2 separate regions of the Homo sapiens genome follow, and region 2 is linked to region 1. The links come from fine-mapping of genetic effects on gene expression. A gene starts in region 1. The other region holds a variant in brackets. All regions are shown on one strand. Distances are from middle to middle. Region 1 holds the start of NCOA2 (nuclear receptor coactivator 2). Region 2 overlaps NCOA2 (nuclear receptor coactivator 2).

What was found. PIP is the estimated chance that this variant, and not a neighbour inherited with it, causes the effect.
Region 2: its variant is the best candidate, but not a certain one, in a credible set for the expression of NCOA2 in Th1/17 cells (Schmiedel 2018, PIP 0.53).

Annotation. Positions count from the first base shown.
Region 1 is chr8:70,399,990-70,408,957 of GRCh38, forward strand. NCOA2 (nuclear receptor coactivator 2) reads right to left here and starts at 3,819. Exons shown (of 23, transcript NM_006540.4): 1 at 3,711-3,819. RefSeq lists silencers at 2,416-3,075, 3,106-3,395, 3,436-3,745, 4,436-4,595 and an enhancer at 4,216-4,335.
Region 2 is chr8:70,285,306-70,294,273 of GRCh38, forward strand. The region is part of intron 2 of NCOA2 (nuclear receptor coactivator 2); the gene reads right to left. Among named protein-coding and RNA genes, the nearest start is that of NCOA2, 110 kb to the right of the region's middle. RefSeq lists an enhancer at 6,187-6,927. The variant AT/A (reference allele first, on the strand shown) is at 4,879.

The DNA.
Region 1 (8,968 bases):
TGAAGCTTGGAAAGCTTTAATAAGATACAACTATAAATAAAGACAACTAAGGAGCATTACCCCTTTATCCACAGCCCAAATCCCCCTCCAAGCCTTACATTTTATATTTCCAATAAAATGCTCTTCTAACACTAAGCCACTCATCTAAATTATATTTAACCAATGAAGGGTTAAAATCCAAAACATATTAACTACTCAAAACATAATAAATCCGTAATTGGTGAGCTCCTTTTCTACCCTCCTGCTTCAGTATACTGACATCTAAAAGTCAAAGAACTCCTCTGTTTAAGACTGAAATTCCCAGGAGGAAGGAAGCTCAGATCCAGTCTGAGAGCACACAATGGAATCACAGCTGACGATGCACATCTTTTTCTAGATGTCTCCATATGCTTGAGAGGTTTTTTTCCCCCCAAGCCAGCCATTAGGAGACTTGGTTCTCTCTGCCACCAAGAATCTTACCACATTTTCAAGGATTGTTGCAAAGAATTAAGTAAAATAATGTGTTGCTCTTCAGCATACAAAAGAGAGAAGGGCATATGTCAGAGTGCCCATAAGTAACTAAATTAACAAATGGTGGGGGGTTTTGAATGTTGTCAAATTTTGAATGTTGTTTTTAATACTCCTTACCTCTCTGTCAGTCTAAGTGTTTGGTTTACCTTCTCTGTTTTTACTATTTTATTACAAAAAACATCTCAAGAGCCACAGCAAAATGCAATTAATTCTTGTCTACATGCACCCAAAATGATCCTGAATTGGGAATTCTCATGGTAAATTTGAAAACACTATATTACAACAGAACACATTTGTAAGATTTGGCAAATACTGTTCCCTAGAACTGCAGTCCCCTTCGATTCTTTCTTAGCAACCCAAGATTAATAAAAGCTTGACTTATAGAAAAGATACACATTTTCCACATAAGATACCTAAAAGAAAACACTCCCAAAATTAAATTCATGGGATACTTATGACAAAAATCAATGAATTCATTCTTAATCTAACACTTTTCATTCTTTGAGCTCCCAAAGATTCTACAAATTCCAGGTGAGAAAGGGAGCATTACTTCTGTCAGTGTGCCTAACCTCACCAACAAAGAACAGGAACACACACACACATACACACACACACACGCGCACACACACATGCTTTGTAGCAGCTGCTTTCTTTTTAAAAGACTGCTATTCCTGCAGAGCAACCTGTGATCTTTACAGAGAATCAAAGACCTCTGTTCCTAAAAGTCAAGAGTTGAGAAAGTCACTTGACTGAACGCGCAATAAACAGTTAAAACCAAAGATGTCTCCAAACCTTGTATAAACCAGAAAAGTACCCACACACTGTACAATTCAGCAGTGTTTAAGAAAATTAAAATTATTTTTAAGAATCTTTTGTGTGGGAGTAATCTGGCAAACTACATTTTACTCAGACTTTTTCCTGTAGACAAATATTCTTTGATTAGCTTTGCTCCTTAAATACCCACACTTAATGTTTCAATCAGTGATGCTTTAGTTCCCAACTTCATTTTGTTTGCAAAAAGAAAAAAAAATGCATACCATAAACCACAACTTTTTTTTTTAATGACATCCCCAATGCCGAAGTTTCAAGTACACTTTGGGAACTGGAGCTCTAATTAAACAAGAAACCAGTGAAGCCATTATGAACAATGATGCTTTCTACTACCAATAATCAGTTGACGTGATACTGCTCCCATGCCTTCATTCTCAGGGTTCCCTTTCAAATTTCATTGTCCCCATTCTGGCATAGCTGAGTGAAACCGAGATAAGAGGTAAACGGGTAACTTCTGTCTTCTGTGACCCTTAGCATGTAAACCGGACGCTGAGGTCCAGGACATGATCACTACAGCATATGCCATTTTAGAAACCGGCCTCGGTGAGTTACTGCCACATCCTAAAGTGGCTTTAGACTTCGTCGTGTCTAAGACAACGTCTATTTCGGTACGAAAGACATACAGGACCTCGAGTGCCTCGGCAGCCTCTGCGGGTCGGAGCCCCTATAAGTGACACAACCCCAGAAATCAAGGAGCGGGTGACTCGGGGATGGACAAGAGTAGCTGGCTCTCAGCGTCTCCATGACTCCCCCGCCCCGCATGCAACTCTGCTCTAACTGGTCAGGAGAAACCCCGCCCCCTTCCTTCCTCCGGTCCGCACGATTGGCTCACCGACACCCGGCAGGTCAGCTCCCTGCCTTCGATTGGCTCACTGCCCCATCAGTCAGACGCACCGAGATTCGGGTCGGTGGGAGGGGAAGGCGTCGGAGGAGGTGGAGAGGGAGTGGGATTAGAGGACGAGGTGGCGGAGGAAGGTGTTCAGGCTCGGTCTCTGGTTTGGGAAAGTTTCCCCTACCAGTGACGGACCCAGAACGCGGGAGGCCCAGTCCAGCTCCGGGCCAGCGGAAGGGGGCTCCAGTCCCCGATTCCCGCCCCTCGGTCCCGCAGGCCCCGGAAACCACTAGAGGGAGGGGAAGAGGGAGGGGCCATCTAACCAGGGACCGACCCACCCCCGGTCTCGGAAGAGGCGCCTCTGGGACTCCCCCGAGGGGAGGAGGCGGGGAGCGCAGCCGGCAGCGACGACCCCGGCCCCCTCCCCCAGCACCCCCCAGGGGCCCGAGAGGGCCGGGTCCCCGTGCCCGGGGCGTGACCGTCGCGAGGCGGCCACAGGGCCCCTCCCGCTTCCCGCCTGGGGCCCCGAGGGCCTGTCCCTTCAGGGGCGGAGAGAAGGGGGCGAGAAAAGGGGGCGCTGGCGAGCCAACCCGGAACCTCCCGGTCCGCCTCCCGCCCCCGGCCCCGGCCCCAGCGCGCCTCCTGCATACACGCCCGCACCCAGAAAGTTCAGTCAGGGGCGAGCCCGGCTCGGCGCCGCCGGGGCCCGGCCCCCGGCTCCCCGCCCCCACCACGGCCCGGCCTGCTCGGCCCCAGCGCGCCGCCCGCCCCGCCCGCCGCAGCTCCTTCCCGTCCGCCCGCGGTGCTCGGCGCCCCTCGCCCCCCACCCCCGGGGCTGACACGGGCCCGGGCCACCCGCCGGGCCGCGGCTCCCCTTCCCCGCCCCGCGCTGCAGCTCGCCGGCCGCCCCGACACCCCGCTTCACCTTCACACACCCCCAGCACTTCCCGAGTCCTGCCTCCCCTCGCCCGGCTCCCACTCTCCGCTGCAGCCGCTCCGCGCTTCCATTAAAGAATGCACCTTCCCAGGATTCACCTTCTCGGCTCTGCCGCGCTGCCCCCGAGGGGTTAGAGCCTCGGTCTCCGCCGACCCCGCACCGGGCTGGGCAATGGGCACTCGCTCCTCGGGGCGGGGGCCGCGCCCGCACCCCCGGCCGCGCCTCGGCGCTCACCTCTCGCCCGCGCCGCGGGCTGCAGCCTCCGCCCGCCTCGCGCTCCGGGACTCGTCTCCTGAGCTCTCGCAAGGCGCTGGAGCGCCTCCTTTCTCTCCCGGGGACTCCGCGTCTCCCCGTCGCTTCCCGCCCTCCCCACCCCCAAGCCCCAACTCCCCAGCGTCGCTGCGCCTCCGGGATGCAACTCCCGTTTTCCGCGCACTCCGGCGGCGGTCCCCGCACACAAAAACAGCCTCTCGGAGGCGCACGGCTCTGTCGGAGCTCGGCGCAGGAAGGGCAGTCGCGGCCGGGGGTGGGGACGCGGCGCCCCCCGCCTGCCGCCCGCCCCCCGCCCGCCCTCGCGGCCCCGGGGGAAGGCGCGGTTACCGGCTCGGGTCGGTCACGCCGTCAGGTGCCGGCTGCCGTCGGCGCTGACCTTCGCCGCCGAAGCTGTAGCCGAGGCTGCGGCCGCCATGTTCCCGTGTTAATAACTGCTGCCTGGTTGTTTATTTCAATGGAGATCCTCCCCCAACTCCCTCCTCCTCCTCCTCCTCCTCCTCCTCCTCCGCGTCTCCGCACTTGCGGAGAGACAGACAGCGCGAGCTCGCGAGCAGGGGAGGGGGCTCGGGAGCCAGGCCGTCCCTCCCTCTGCCTCCCCGGCAGTGGCCGCCGCCAAGTCCTGTCACCGGGAAAAGGACGGGGCGGAAACTTGCCTCTCGCGCCCCCGAGGAAGGGGCAAAGGTGGACGCAGGGTTGTCCGGGGAGCAGCCCCTGGCCGCGGGGTCCGCAGCATCTCCGTCGGCAGAGTCCTCTGAGAAGGCGGCCCGGGGAGAGGTGAAGAAGAGTAAGGGGACAGGGGACAAAATGGGTGACTGTGGTAGAGGGAGGGTGACCTAGAGGTGACTGGAACTGAAGAGAGAGTCAACAGAGGACTGCATGGGAGGGCAAAGGGCAATGCCAAAAAGAAAACTAGCGACTGGGACGGGCCTGGGCCGCTGAGTTAGAGGCAGTGGGGCCTGGGGGCTGCAGACGGCAGGGACGGTGCCCCAGGACGAAGATCGGGGAGAGCCGAGTTCCAGGGTCGCCAGCAGAGGACCCTCGCGCCCGTCCGGCCGGACCCTTCGGCCAGCACCCTGCACCCCCTCGGGCGCACCTCACCCTACCCAACTCCCGGTCCTGCCGCTGCTCCCCGGAGGCGCCCCGCATCCGTCAAGTCCCCTACGGCTCCAACAGGGAGAGGCTTCTCCCATTGCAGTCCTAGCTCCAGAGGGGATGGAGAGGCGCGACTGTGGGAGCTGGAAGGGGCACCACCCGGCAATTGCGGGATAAAGCAAATGCTGCACACAGAGTGTGAAACTTAACCTGGTTGAGAATTTTCGGCACATCATGAAATCATAAGTTTGTATTGGAAAGTCCATTCTCTAGACATCCGTGAACAAAGTACTGAGGGGACGTAGGAGATTGGCACTGAAAATGCGAGAACCCCCATTTAAGTGTTACTTAGACCAATCTGTTTTACGCTTTGGAAAAGCAAGTTTTTTTTCCAACTTATACGGTAATTAGTTGAAAAAAAAAACTTTTGTTTAATGGCAGTTATCAAACTATGAGAGGAACATATTCCCTGATTTTAATCTTATAATGAGAAAGGTCACTTGCGGTAGACAATAAGAGTGTTTATTGAACACTTACTGTGAATCTGACTGTGCTAGGTGATGTATATATGCTATAGGCCTTAATCCTCAAACCTTCCGAAGTCATTGCCGCTTTTCACTTCACACAAAAAATTGAAGCTTAAAGTAATTTGCCCAGGGTCACAGCCAGTAGTTGGAGAGGATGTGAGCCCAGTTCTGGTGAGCTCCAAAGCCCATGCTTTTAAACATGTCTTCATCCTAAAATTTGTGGGTGTACCGCCAATTTTATTTGGGAAAAGAATAAAAAAAATGTGTGGGGTGTGTGTGTCTGTGTTTGTTTGTGGATAGAAAATGCTTGGAAGCCTATAACAACAAATGTTAGCGCTGGGGAGTGTAAGAAGTGGGTGATGAGGCACTTCCACTTTTTATTTTGCACACCTATCTAATGTTTGAAATGTTTGCATTGACTATGTATTAATGTATATTTTTAAAGGTTTTTTTTTTTTTTTTTTTTTTTTTTTTTTAGCTAGCTGGAATAATAGAATTATGTTCCCAAAGCGTTGAGAGGAAATGGAGAGTTTGTTTATGGCCTATCTTCTGCTAATACCAGTCTGTAGCTTGTCTACAATGGGGTAGTAGTCACCTGAGGTTTGTCACAATTCTGAACTCCCGATTTGCTTTCCTGTCCTCACCCCCAACTGTGAGTTATCAGGAGTTGTGATAATAAATAAATAAATAAATAAAAATTTAAAAAAAAGATTCTCCTTCTTGCTTGCTATCCCTCCCATTTTGGCAGAAGTCCAGAGTCTATCAGTCCTCTGCAATCGTAGATTTCACACTTTTTAAAACTACCCATGATACCTCTGCAAACAAATGACTCCCCCCATTGCATTCCCGTATTACCCAATAAAACGTCTTACGACGGCTGAAGACTTTTTCTTACAAGAAATAAACAAAAACGTCTGACAGCATAGTAGATGAGTTCCATGCCCAAGTGCTACTCAATTGCCTGAGCTTGAATTGAATTGTGTGACTTAAACGCGCTCTGGTACAATCTCTGGGTGCCCTCTGAACTTCAGGCTCTTGCTGTAACAGTAGTCTGTCTTGCACTAGAGTTGTTTATATGTTTGTCTTTCTCTTTCACTAGATTGTAAGTGCAACAGAGCCCAAGACCTAGTCTTGTTCTTGTTTGTACATGCTATAGCACCTAACAAGGAATGTATGATGTTTGTTGTTTCATTGAATTTGTGAAATATAAATAATAGTATCTATTCCGATCCTCATGTCCTCTTCCCCACCTCATCTTCCAATCCCTTGCTCATAAAACATGTTTATAAAAAACATCTTCCATACTTAGAAAGAACTTTGATTCCCATGAGACCTCAGAACAATTGTTTATTAAAACTAGCCATAATTTTTAGTGAATCATCACTATGATAATGTAAAATGAAAAGGTAGAGGAGGCGGTAAATAAGTTGGCTCAATGACACAAATTAAGAAAGGAAGAAGAAGGAAAGAAAAAAGAAGGCAAAGATATAGGAACTAGGTATATTACCAAGAGAGAACAACAAGGAAAAAATATGTGGGTGCAGATCATAAAGGGGAAGGAAATTATTGAAATTTAGTGGAAGTAGAAATAACATACCGTGAATGGATGAGGCAAGGAAACACCAAAAATGTCAGCAGAATCATAAATGCAGCATGGAAAAGTAAAGAAAATGACAAATTATATATTTAACAATATAACCTAGGAATAATCAGAACAATATGACTGCTACAAGACAAGAATTTCTATTTTTGTCTGCCTTTTCTTCCACAGTTTTCAAAGTACTCACTTTTTTCATAAGTAAACTGCATAAAAGTGGGAGATTCTATACTATTTTTGAGTTAATACTACTAGCATACATCATGAGATTAGAGGTAACAGTATGGTAAAAAAGAGCTATAGAATATAAGCAAATAAATATGATGTGAAGTGGTCTCTGTAAGTTACTGTGTGACCTCAAACAAGTCACTAAATATCGCAATTTCCTCATCTGTGTAATTGTTGCAAGACTCAAAATGGTGTAAATAAATGTACTTTGTTAACTATCAAGCTCTTTATACAGATGTAAGGGAATATTATTATGTCAGCTAATATGTAGCACAGTTATCTCTGTTTTGGTGCATTCCTAAATTGCCAAAGCAAAAATCTATAGTTCATTCTATTAAAATGTAATCATAGGGTGGGGGCGTCAGTTAAAACATTTGTTTGTCAATTTGATTATTGAACGACTGTGATGAAATGTTTCATTCTTATTGTTTGCTCTCTTCTAAATCCCTTAAATAGTATAACTACAATAAACAAATGTCTAATATAAGTCAAGCATATTACATAAATTTTTTCCTTACTGAAGTAGTCATTGTATGTATATTATTCTCATTTTATGTACAATAAAGCTGAGCTTCAGAGACTTCAAGTAAATTAATGCAAAGTCATAGAACTGCCTTCGCTGCATATCTAAGATTGTGTTAGGATTCTACTCTTCATCACTTGTATTTCTACTACTCTGAGAAACACATTGGCTGGGCGCAGTGGCTCACGCCTGTAATCACAGCACTTTGGGAGGCCGAGGCAGGCAGATCACGAGGTTAAGAGATTGAGACCATCCTGGCCAACATGGTGAAACCCCGTCTGTACTAAAAATACAAAAAAAAAAAAAAATTAGCTGGGTGTGGTGGCGCGCTCCTGTAGTCCCAGCTACTTGGGAGGCTGAGGCAGGAGAATTGTTTGAACCGGGAGGCGGAGGTTGCAGTGAGCCAAGATCGCACCACTGCACTACAGCCTGGTGACAGAGCAAGACTCTGTCTCCTAGAACATAATGCATACTCAATAAATGATCATGAAAAGAATGAATAAATGAATGAATGGGCTCCCTTCAAGTCATACTGTACACTGTCACAGGATTGATCCCCTCAGTCTTATTTTGTTACTTTCCCACTTGAAAACACTTAATGATCCTTCATTAACTATGGAATACAATTCAAATCCTTCATCTTAGATTAAGAACCTCTTTGATATACCCCCTCTATTCATACCTCCCTTATTTCTCCCCCTCTATTCATACCTCCCTTATTTCTCAAGCAAAAACAAATATTAATACACCCACACTCATTCCAGGGTATTCTGAGTGAGATTGACATGAGTTTCAATCTTGGCTCTTACTAACTGGGTGAACTTGGGCAAGTTATTTGGCATCTCTGCAAATTTTATCAGTGCAATAAGACAAGAAAATGAATTGGAAGGAGGTGAAACCAAACTTATTCACTAATGATGATATAGTGTACGTACAAAATTCAAAAGAATCCATGAACTACTAAAATGAATGTAGGATCACAAGGTACAAGGTCAATTGTATTTCTTCTGTATGTTAGCATGAAACAACTGGAAAATGAAAATTTTAAAATGCCATTTACAAAAGCATTTTAAAAATCAAAATTCAGGAATAAATTTAATGAAAGATGTCACATGATCTCTACATTGAGAAAAAAATATTGCTAATAGAAATTCACAATGGCCTAAAAACAGAAATAGACTGGGCACAGTGGCACATGCTTGTAGTTCCAGCTACTTGGGAAGCTGAGGCGGGAAGATCACTTGAGCCTAGGAGTTGTAGACCAGCGTGGGCAACATAGCAATACTGTGTCTCTTAAAAAGTTAATTTTTGTGTGTGTGTGTGACATGACCTTACTCTGTCACTCAGGCTGGAGAGTGCAGTGGCACAATTACAGCTCACTGCAGCCCTGACCTCCCTAATAGTCAGGAATACAGGTGTGTGCCACCACACCCAGCTTTTTTTTTTTTTTTTGGATTTTTTTTTTTTTGTAGAGATGGGGTTTCACCGTCTTACCCAGGCTGATCTTGAACTGCTGGGGCTGAAGTGATCTGCCCACCTAAGCCTTCCAGAGTGTTAGGATTACGGCATAAGCCATCATGCCAGACCAAAACATTAAATTTTTAAAACAAGAGATGGG
Region 2 (8,968 bases), 110 kb before region 1:
TACTATGTAGTTAGACAAGGTTTAGAACACAGCATCCACCATTAAGTGCTCACATACTTCAGCTAAGATGATAACCAAGAGTCATTTTCCTACCTTTTGGCACTTGAGTCCCATTAATCAAGATTCCCCTTATTTCTGTGTTTCATTTCTAACTACTCCTGTTGTGATGATCTAAAATAGATGGCAGGTTGTAGCCTTCATAGCAAGATACGCACATGGCGAAGAACACTGAGAGACAGACAGCCATGGGCACAGTGCCCACTGCCCTTCCTGCACTCTATGCCTACTACATTATTGTACATTTGTTGATACACTGCTTTGTAATCCCATTCACGTAACTTAATGTTTGCCATTTCTCTTACTACACCGTAAGATGTGGGTAGGACTATATATATTGCTTCTGTATACCTAAAACATGACTACTTTACTGCATGCACTATCATTGCTCCAGAAATGAGTACAGACTAAATTGAAAAATGCTACCGGTTGGATGGGGAATGAAAAACAAATCAGGGCTTTCATGTAATCAACAAGTTCCATTTGTATCACTAGAGGAGGCTCTATGTCATATCAGAAAGAGATTTTTGGAAATATATAGTTTCAGGTTCAAATTCCAGAACTACCTACCTGACAATATGATTTAATTCATCTCTCTATACCTTAGTGTTTTCAGCTAAAAATGGGGTAAGTTCTCTCTCCCAAGCTACTGGTAAGAATTTGATGAAATAAAAAGCATATTATGCCTAGCAGAATGTAGGTATGCAAGAAAAGTTTCCTTCTTAAATTTGCACTTCTTTATATTCTAATGTATAAAAAATATTTCCAGGCTGTGTACAGTGGCTCATGCCTGTAATCCCAGTGCTTTGGGAGGCTGAGGTGGGAGGATCACTTGAGCCCAGGAGTTCAAGATCAGCCTGGGCAACATAACGAGACTTGTCTCTACAAAAAAATAAAAAATTAGCTGGGCATGTTGACTGAGGGAGGAGGATCACCTCTGCCCAGGAGTTCAAGGTTGCAGTGAGCTATGATTGTGCCACTGCACTCCAGTCTGGTGACAGAGCAAGAAAAAGGAAAAGGAAATATACATATATATTTCCATCTCTGTTTTAAAAAGATGTGGTCAAACCCTTGCTAGAAAGTAAATGAAACAAACTTTTCAAGAGACTTAACCGTGAGCTACAATATAAATACTCAAAGATAAAATTTTAAAGGTGGATTTAACCAGTGATTTAAGAAACAGCATGAATTGCTCAAACACTAAAAACATATTTCACATTATTAATTAAATTATCTTTACTATGTATGCTTAGAAATTGCTTTAAAAGACAAGAGAAAAAGAAAACGGCAGTTGTGAATAAAGTAAATTCTAGGTAGTAAGCAATTAAAACCTCTTTTTGTGTTCATGGTAAATACTGTTAATTATATCACAGATACTCATAAGCAACCAAAAACCCTGTGTATTGATTGTAAAGAGCAGCTGTAATTTCCCCTATATATATTTAAAACAAAACAAAACCCGGGGAAATCTGAGAGAAAGGATGGCCTATTTTTCTTAACATTTTATAAAATAAAAAGGCCATGTCTGTTAAGGTATGATAATCTGAAATATAGTCAAAATGAAACAAAAACTGTCCAATATAAATTAAGGGTTTTTTGGCCAGGTGTGGTGGCTCATGCTTGTAAACCCAGCATTTAGGGAGGCAGAGATGGGCGGATCACTTGAGCCCGGGAGTTAGAGACTAGCCTGGCCAACATGCTTAAATCCTGTCTCTACAAAAAAATACAAAAATTAGCCGGATGTGGTGGTATACACCTGTAATCTCAGCTAATCAGGACACTGAGGCAGGAGGATCAATCTAGCTCGGGAGGTCGAGGCTGCAGTGAGCTATGACTGCACCACTGCACTTCGGCCTGGGTGAAAGAGCAAGATCCTGTCTCAAAAAATATATTAATTAATTAATTAATTAATTAGGTTTTTAAAAGTAATTGAAAGGATTCTCTAGTCACTCTTAGAATGTAGTATTTTCTCTTTTTTAAATTTTTTTCTTTTCACTGCTGGAACAAAAGAATGTACTCTTTTCTAAATCAAAGCTGAAATTTGCTTTAGAATTGAAAACTTTCTTCAACTTTGCGTAAAAAGGTCCTATATAGGCTTCTGATTATGGGAATTCTAAATTACTTTTTAAGAATTTTTTTACTGAATAAAACTTGTGAAGTCATTTTTAAAGAGACGAATCAAAGGGAGTAGGGCTGGGCCCTGTTTTTCCATCTTTCAAAACAAAATAACCATGTTAATAGAAAAGCTAAACACACATCCTATTGAAAGCATTATCTGTGTAACCTCATTTGAAGCCACGAAACAGCATAATATCATTTCTGTAACCTGCATTTCCTTTGTTAATTAATGGCAGATTATCATGTCTGATAAAATAGGCAATTTATCAACTTCATGGACTTCAGTCTAGCTAGTAGCCACAATGATATGAGCCTGCAGACCCTCACTGTAGAGAAAATGGCATACACAGCATTAAGCCTTGTCACAGCCTTACCTATAATGACAAAGTCAGCCTGAAACTTTATTTTGAAAATTACTAGTTAATTCTTTTTTGGCTTTCTCCGTCTTTTGCTTGTTTGTTTGTTTGTTTTAAGAGAACCAAGTTTCACAAGCCAAAAACTGCAAATGCCAGATTGGGCTGGATTCCCAATTTGGCCTCTAACTGGCTAATTAGGTGCAAATCACTGGGCAAGTTATTTAACTTCTCAGTGCCTTTGTCTACCCGTCTTTAAAATAGGATCATAATAGCAGCTACATCATAGGTTTGAGGATTATGTGAATTACTATGAGAAAGGCTTAGAACACTACTTGGCACATGATAAGCACAATAGGCATGCTAGCTATTATAAATGATCTTTCAGTTCCAAGAATTTTTTATTCACTATGATGTGAAAGAGGAAGGGTTATTTTTTTTCCTTTTAAAAATATGGAGGAAATAGGCCGGTGTGTGGCTCATGCCTGTAATCTCAGCACTTTGGGAGGCCAAGGTGGGCAGATCCCCTGAGGTTAGGAGTTCAAGACCAGCCTGGCCAAATGGCGAAACCCCATCTCTACTAAAAATACAAAAAAAATTAGCCAGCATGGTGGTGCGCACCTTTAGTCACAGCTACTCGGGGAAGCTGAGGCAGGAGAATCGCTTGAACCCAGAAGGCAGAGGTTGCAGTGAGCGGAGATTGCGCCACTGCACTCTAGCCTGGGCAACAGAGCGAAACCCTGTCTCAAAACAAAAACAAAAAAAAAAAAGGAAGAAATAAATTACAATATTGGAAATAGATAAACACAGGGCACACACATTACGGTTTAAAGGAACATGCTTCTGCATTTAGGATATGTTAAAAATACATTTAAAAGATAACAGCAATATTTTACAAAAGGCTATCATTTCCTATTTCCAAAAGATACTTTAAAGAGGAAATTTGAACCTGACTTTGATACGCAATATGTCAGCGCACAAGTGCAAATAGTTTATGTGTCAGACAATAAAGATTTTATGAAATTTTGTGAATATTTTGAAGCAGCAGCAACAATTAAACATCTAACCTCTATATTAGAGAAAAAATTTAACTGTTCCCAAAGCATCTAGTTACAAAAAAATCTAAATTCTACTCAGTTAATAAAATAAAATCTACTGTTTTATATTAATAAGAAACTCATCAAACCAATTTGTCCAATAGATGTTTAAGTCAAAGAATTTTATATTTCTATTCTATTCAAATATAATAGCGTAAGTAATCATGATACAGTTTCAAAATACATGAGTTCAAAACTATCTTCTATTTTCATACTCTGTCTTATAACCCAGGAAACAGAAGTGTTTTCTGGACTGTAATAAAACCGCCACTTAAAAGGAAGAATTAGTAATCTAGATCAAATAGCCTTTTTAATGACAAAGAATTGAAAAGTTGAGAGATGAACTGTTTTCACTGGCCACTACTCTCTATATTCTAGAATAAGCTACCAATTCAATAATTATGACACAGCTGTTTCTTTTAAAGATAGTCTTTTATAGTCTAGGTAAAGATTTAAAAGTCTCAGTACTCATATCCAACACTGGTAGGTATCTTAAAAATTTCCCCATTCATCCTTCCACTGAAACTCTGGCCTATCACATCCTTGCTTTCCCAGTTCTTTTCACTTCTCAGGGAAACATGATAAAACCATGCTGGGGTTCTGTCATACTGATAGTTAACAAATTTCCAGACCATTAGGTTGACACTAATGTGTGACTTCTGCTTGTAAAATTTATGTAACTGGCACCAAAAAAGCCAAAACTGTTGGTTTAAAAAAAGGAAGTCCTTAATTCTACTTTTTAAAAAGTAGTGAAAACAAACAATTCCATACACAGTGGCACCACAAAAGCAACCTTGCATGGAAGCATGCAGTTAAAAGATCCTCCTCAAAATTGGACTACATTGATTTAAACTGTATGTTGACTCCCTACTTGGCCATTATTAAGTGCTACACACTTTTTTTTTTCTTTAAGAGACTGGATCTTGCTATGTCGCCCAAGCTGGGGTGCAGTGGCTATTCACAGGTAATCAGGACACACTACAGCCTCCAACTCTTGGGCTCAAGCAATCCTCCTGCCTCAAGGCTCCTGAGTAGCTGGGACTACAGAACACGCCACTGTGCTCAGCTAAATGCTACCCCTACGTATACTTCTTACTTTCTCTTTAATCTTTGTAGATGAGAAGGCAAAATATAATGGTGCCTAGGCCTCAGCTAAATGCTACCCCTACGTATACTTCTTACTTTCTCTTTAATCTTTGTAGATGAGAAGGCAAAATATAATGGTGCCTAGGCCAAAAAATACATTTCCATTG[AT/A]TTTTTTTTTTTTTTTTTTTGAGATGGAGTCTCGCTCTGTTGCCCAGGCTAGAGTGCAGTGGCGCGATTTCTCGGCTCACTACCAGCTCCGCCTCCTGGGTTCACACCATTCTCCTGCCTCAGCCTCCCAAATAGCTGGGACTACAGGCGCCTGCCACCACACCCGGCTAATTTTTTGTATTTTTAGTAGACACGGGGTTTCACCATGTTAGCCAGGATGGTCTCGATCTCCTAACCTCGTGATCCGCCTGCCTCGGCCTCTCAAAGTGCTGGGATTACAGGTGTGAGCCAACGCGCCCGGCCTATTTCCATTGATTATAGACATCCATGAATCATTCATGAAATAGCAAACAAGGCTTAGACAACCTAATGCATGGAATTAAGATAAAAATCATAATTTGCAAAGCTTACTGTTAATTTCTCTGGTTTTCTCCCATTATACTGAGTCTCAAGCTAGCAATACAAGTCAAAATAAATAGAAATACCTATATCCTAATGCTAAAGAATCACAGTAAAATAAAAAAAACTTAATTGCATGGCTATGGATAATTTTATAAATGCTTAATTTAGACCCTTGTATCTAGATGTTATAAATGGTTCAAAATAACATGTATGAATTTCAGCTTAAAAAAAAAACAAAACTATAAGGTGTTTGATGGAAACAGCCTGACTTTACTTGCTATTTTATCTTTAAGGGGATTCTGGCAAAGTTAGCTGACTCAAATTCAGCACCTGCCTAGAAAATAACATACATCTGGCATTTGCCTTCCAAAGTGAAAGTGAACAGCCTAGCTAAAAATCCTACTAACTGACCCAAATCTAATGCCAAGTATTTCAAAAGTTACTGTGGTGGCATTTATGTGAAATTCTACTTGTCACAGACCTTCTCCCTGAAGCTAACAACTGTACCACCCAGACAAGTGGAATATTCAAGTTTGAATTGAACCCTAAGGACCAACAACAAAAACAACAAACAGATATGTATTTTATTAACAATCTATTAAACCACTTATCCCACTCCTATGCATAAATCTCTCCTGTTTTCTAGTACAGAAAGCATAGCTGAGAAATTATGGCCCACCCTAACTTTCTCAGAATATTCTGACACCAGTCCTACCTCCTCTAAACATGCTAACTCAAAAGATTTACACAAGATATGGACTGGTAATACTTTTCATTTTAATTACTTTCAAAGAATACCAGCTATGCCAACAGAGGTCACACTTAGAAATTTTCAATTTAAAAAAAGTTGCTCCCACAGTAAAGTGGCTCTAAGCTAAAATTCAATTCTCTTATACTCCAAGAAACAACATCCTTGTGCATTCTGAAAAAAAAATTAAATTACTGTCTAATTCTAAATACATGATTTCCAACATCATTCTACTTGTCTGTCCATATGAAGACAGCAATGCCATCATGCAGAATGAAGATTGCCTGGACTGTGATTTGTTCAACCTCACTAAGCAAGACACACCTACCTTAAGAGGTGCGTGTCTTCCTAAGAGCACACTCTGAGAGCTCTGTTAACACTAAGTAATAAACAAAACATTTACTAATGATAGCATTTTGTTGTTGTTGCTACTGCTTTAACCTCGATTCACATGGACAGATTAAGACTTTGAATAAGTTGGCCGGGCGGGCGCAGTGGCTCACGCCTGTAATCCCAGCACTTTGGGAGGCCGAGGCGGGCGGATCACAAGGTCAGTAGATTGAGACCATCCTGGCTAACACGGTGAAACCCCGTAGCCGGGTGCGGTGGCGGGCGCCTGTAGTCCCAGCTACTCGGGGGCTGAGGCAGGAGAATGGCATGAACCTGGGAGGCGGAGCTTGCAGTGAGCTGAGATCCACCCACTGCACTCCAGCCTGGGCAACAGAGCGAGACGCCGTCTCAAAAAAAAAAAAAAAGACTTTGAATAGGGAGACATATAATTCAGAAATCAGTGCCCTGTTTTTTGTTTGTTTGTTTTTGAGAGGAAGTCCTGCTCTGTCGCCAGGCTGGCGTGCAGTGGCCAGGTTGCAGTGCGGTGGCGTGATCTCGGCTCACTGCAACCTCCACCTCCTGGGTTCAAGCGATTCTCCCACCTCAGCCTCCCAAGTAGCTGGGACTACAGGCACACGCCACCATGCCCAGCTAATTTTTGTATTTTTAGTAGAGATGGGGTTTCACCATGTTGGCCAGGATGGTCTCGATCTCTTGACCTCGTGATCTGCCGCCTGGGAATCCCAAAGAGCTGGGATTACAGGTGTGAGCCACCGCACCCAGCCCTGAGGCAGGAGAATCGCTTAAATCCAGGAGGCAGAGGCTGCAGTGAGCTGTGATCTTGCCACTGCACTCCAGCCTGGGCAACAAAGACTCCATCTCAGGAAAAAAAAAAAAAAAAAGAATCAGAAAACCTAAACACAATGTAAAAATATCGAACAAGGAAACATGGAGTTAAACTTGCATGGATAGATAATCCTTTTTAATTTAATAATTTTTGGCAACCATTCTTTGTATTTCCTATAGCACTTAGCCTAGGCTAGGGATGGCCTAAGGGTAAAAGGAAGTCAGGAAGAGAGAAAGGAGAGTTAATGGTGCTGAATGATTTAGTTTAATGAGGAAAACTAAGCTAACCGGTTCACACTAATGTGTGCACATAAAAGGAAGAAAACAACAAGAAAAGAGTAAACTGCCTGTCAGTTTCCAACTGCTGGCTTTGTGTCAACAACACCCATCAGAAGATCATTTCAATGTGAGCCTACATCATCCTGAGTTCAGTAGTCCGTTCTGCGTATTAAGTGCAGAGGAGTCTACCCTGTGAGACCAGGATCGTGATTCTACTCTGAACAGTTAAATGACTGAGGGCATTTTGTCAACTTAAATTTTTTTTTTAATTCTACAGATGACAGTGCCTACCATGCTGTCATTTGAAGAAAATACCACAAAAATAGTGATATAAATAAATATGGGCAGATTTTGCCTAAAGCAAAAGATATATATTTCAGTATTCTCAATTTTAGTTTAGATTAATACTGATTTTCAGTAGATAGTGCCCAAAGCCTGATACCTGTACCTCAAATCAAAGTGCCCATATCTTCATGGATACATATACATCCAGTTAAATCAGATATCTAATCACAAATCTTCTCACATCTATGAACAAAGGAGGGATTAAAAACTCCAACAAATATTCATTTGAAATGTATTTCAACCATGTCATATCCAATATGGTCAAAGTTTCTCTTAGGCCTTGATATGCTTAATTTTTAGTATATAGCACTTAGTACACAACAACAAAGTAAACTGGTACTACATGAAGTATATATTGTGTTTTATTGTACAGTGGAGAACTTCTCCCCCATGTTGGTATTTAAGAGTTGGGCTGTACTTAGCATGTGTGAACAATTCACCAACCTACCTTCACCCTATCCTCCCACCCAAATCTTCCAACACAGAGAAAACTTATAAATAAATCCAAGGTCTATATAAATCCACAGTGAGTTCAACTTTCTGTAGTGAAAGGAAAATTACATTTCAAAGCTATATTGCCAAATAGATTTATATAACTCTTGCTCCTGTTTTGATTATCAATGCCAAGTAAATTTTATTGGCTAACTTTAAAAATGCTTAAAATGTGAGACTAGAACGGAAATACTGACCTAGCTGTACATTAAAAATCATAGTTCAGTCTGTTCAATAAGTTTTGTCTTTTTAACTCAAACTACAGAATTCCATTTTTCATATACTCAAATCTGGAATTTGCATTTACACTCATAGATACAACTCTTTTGGAAAGTCTAAGGAAGTATATAAATAATAATATTTTCAAATCAAAATCTTAAGGTATATTCAACAAAGTTGTCCTTCAGAACATTTTGTCCACTTTATAAATTTAAGACCCAAAATATAATAATTATATTTTTACATAGTATGTCCTACTCAGCTTTGAAAATAAACTAAGTAAGAGAAGCTAAAGTTCTATCTGAACCAACTCCTGATATACTGCAAGGCTATATACTAAACTTCATTTCTTCAATAGTTAAAGTATTTTTCCCAGAGATACAAACTATCAAATTTTTCAAGATAAAGGTTCTAAGTAATTCTATAGT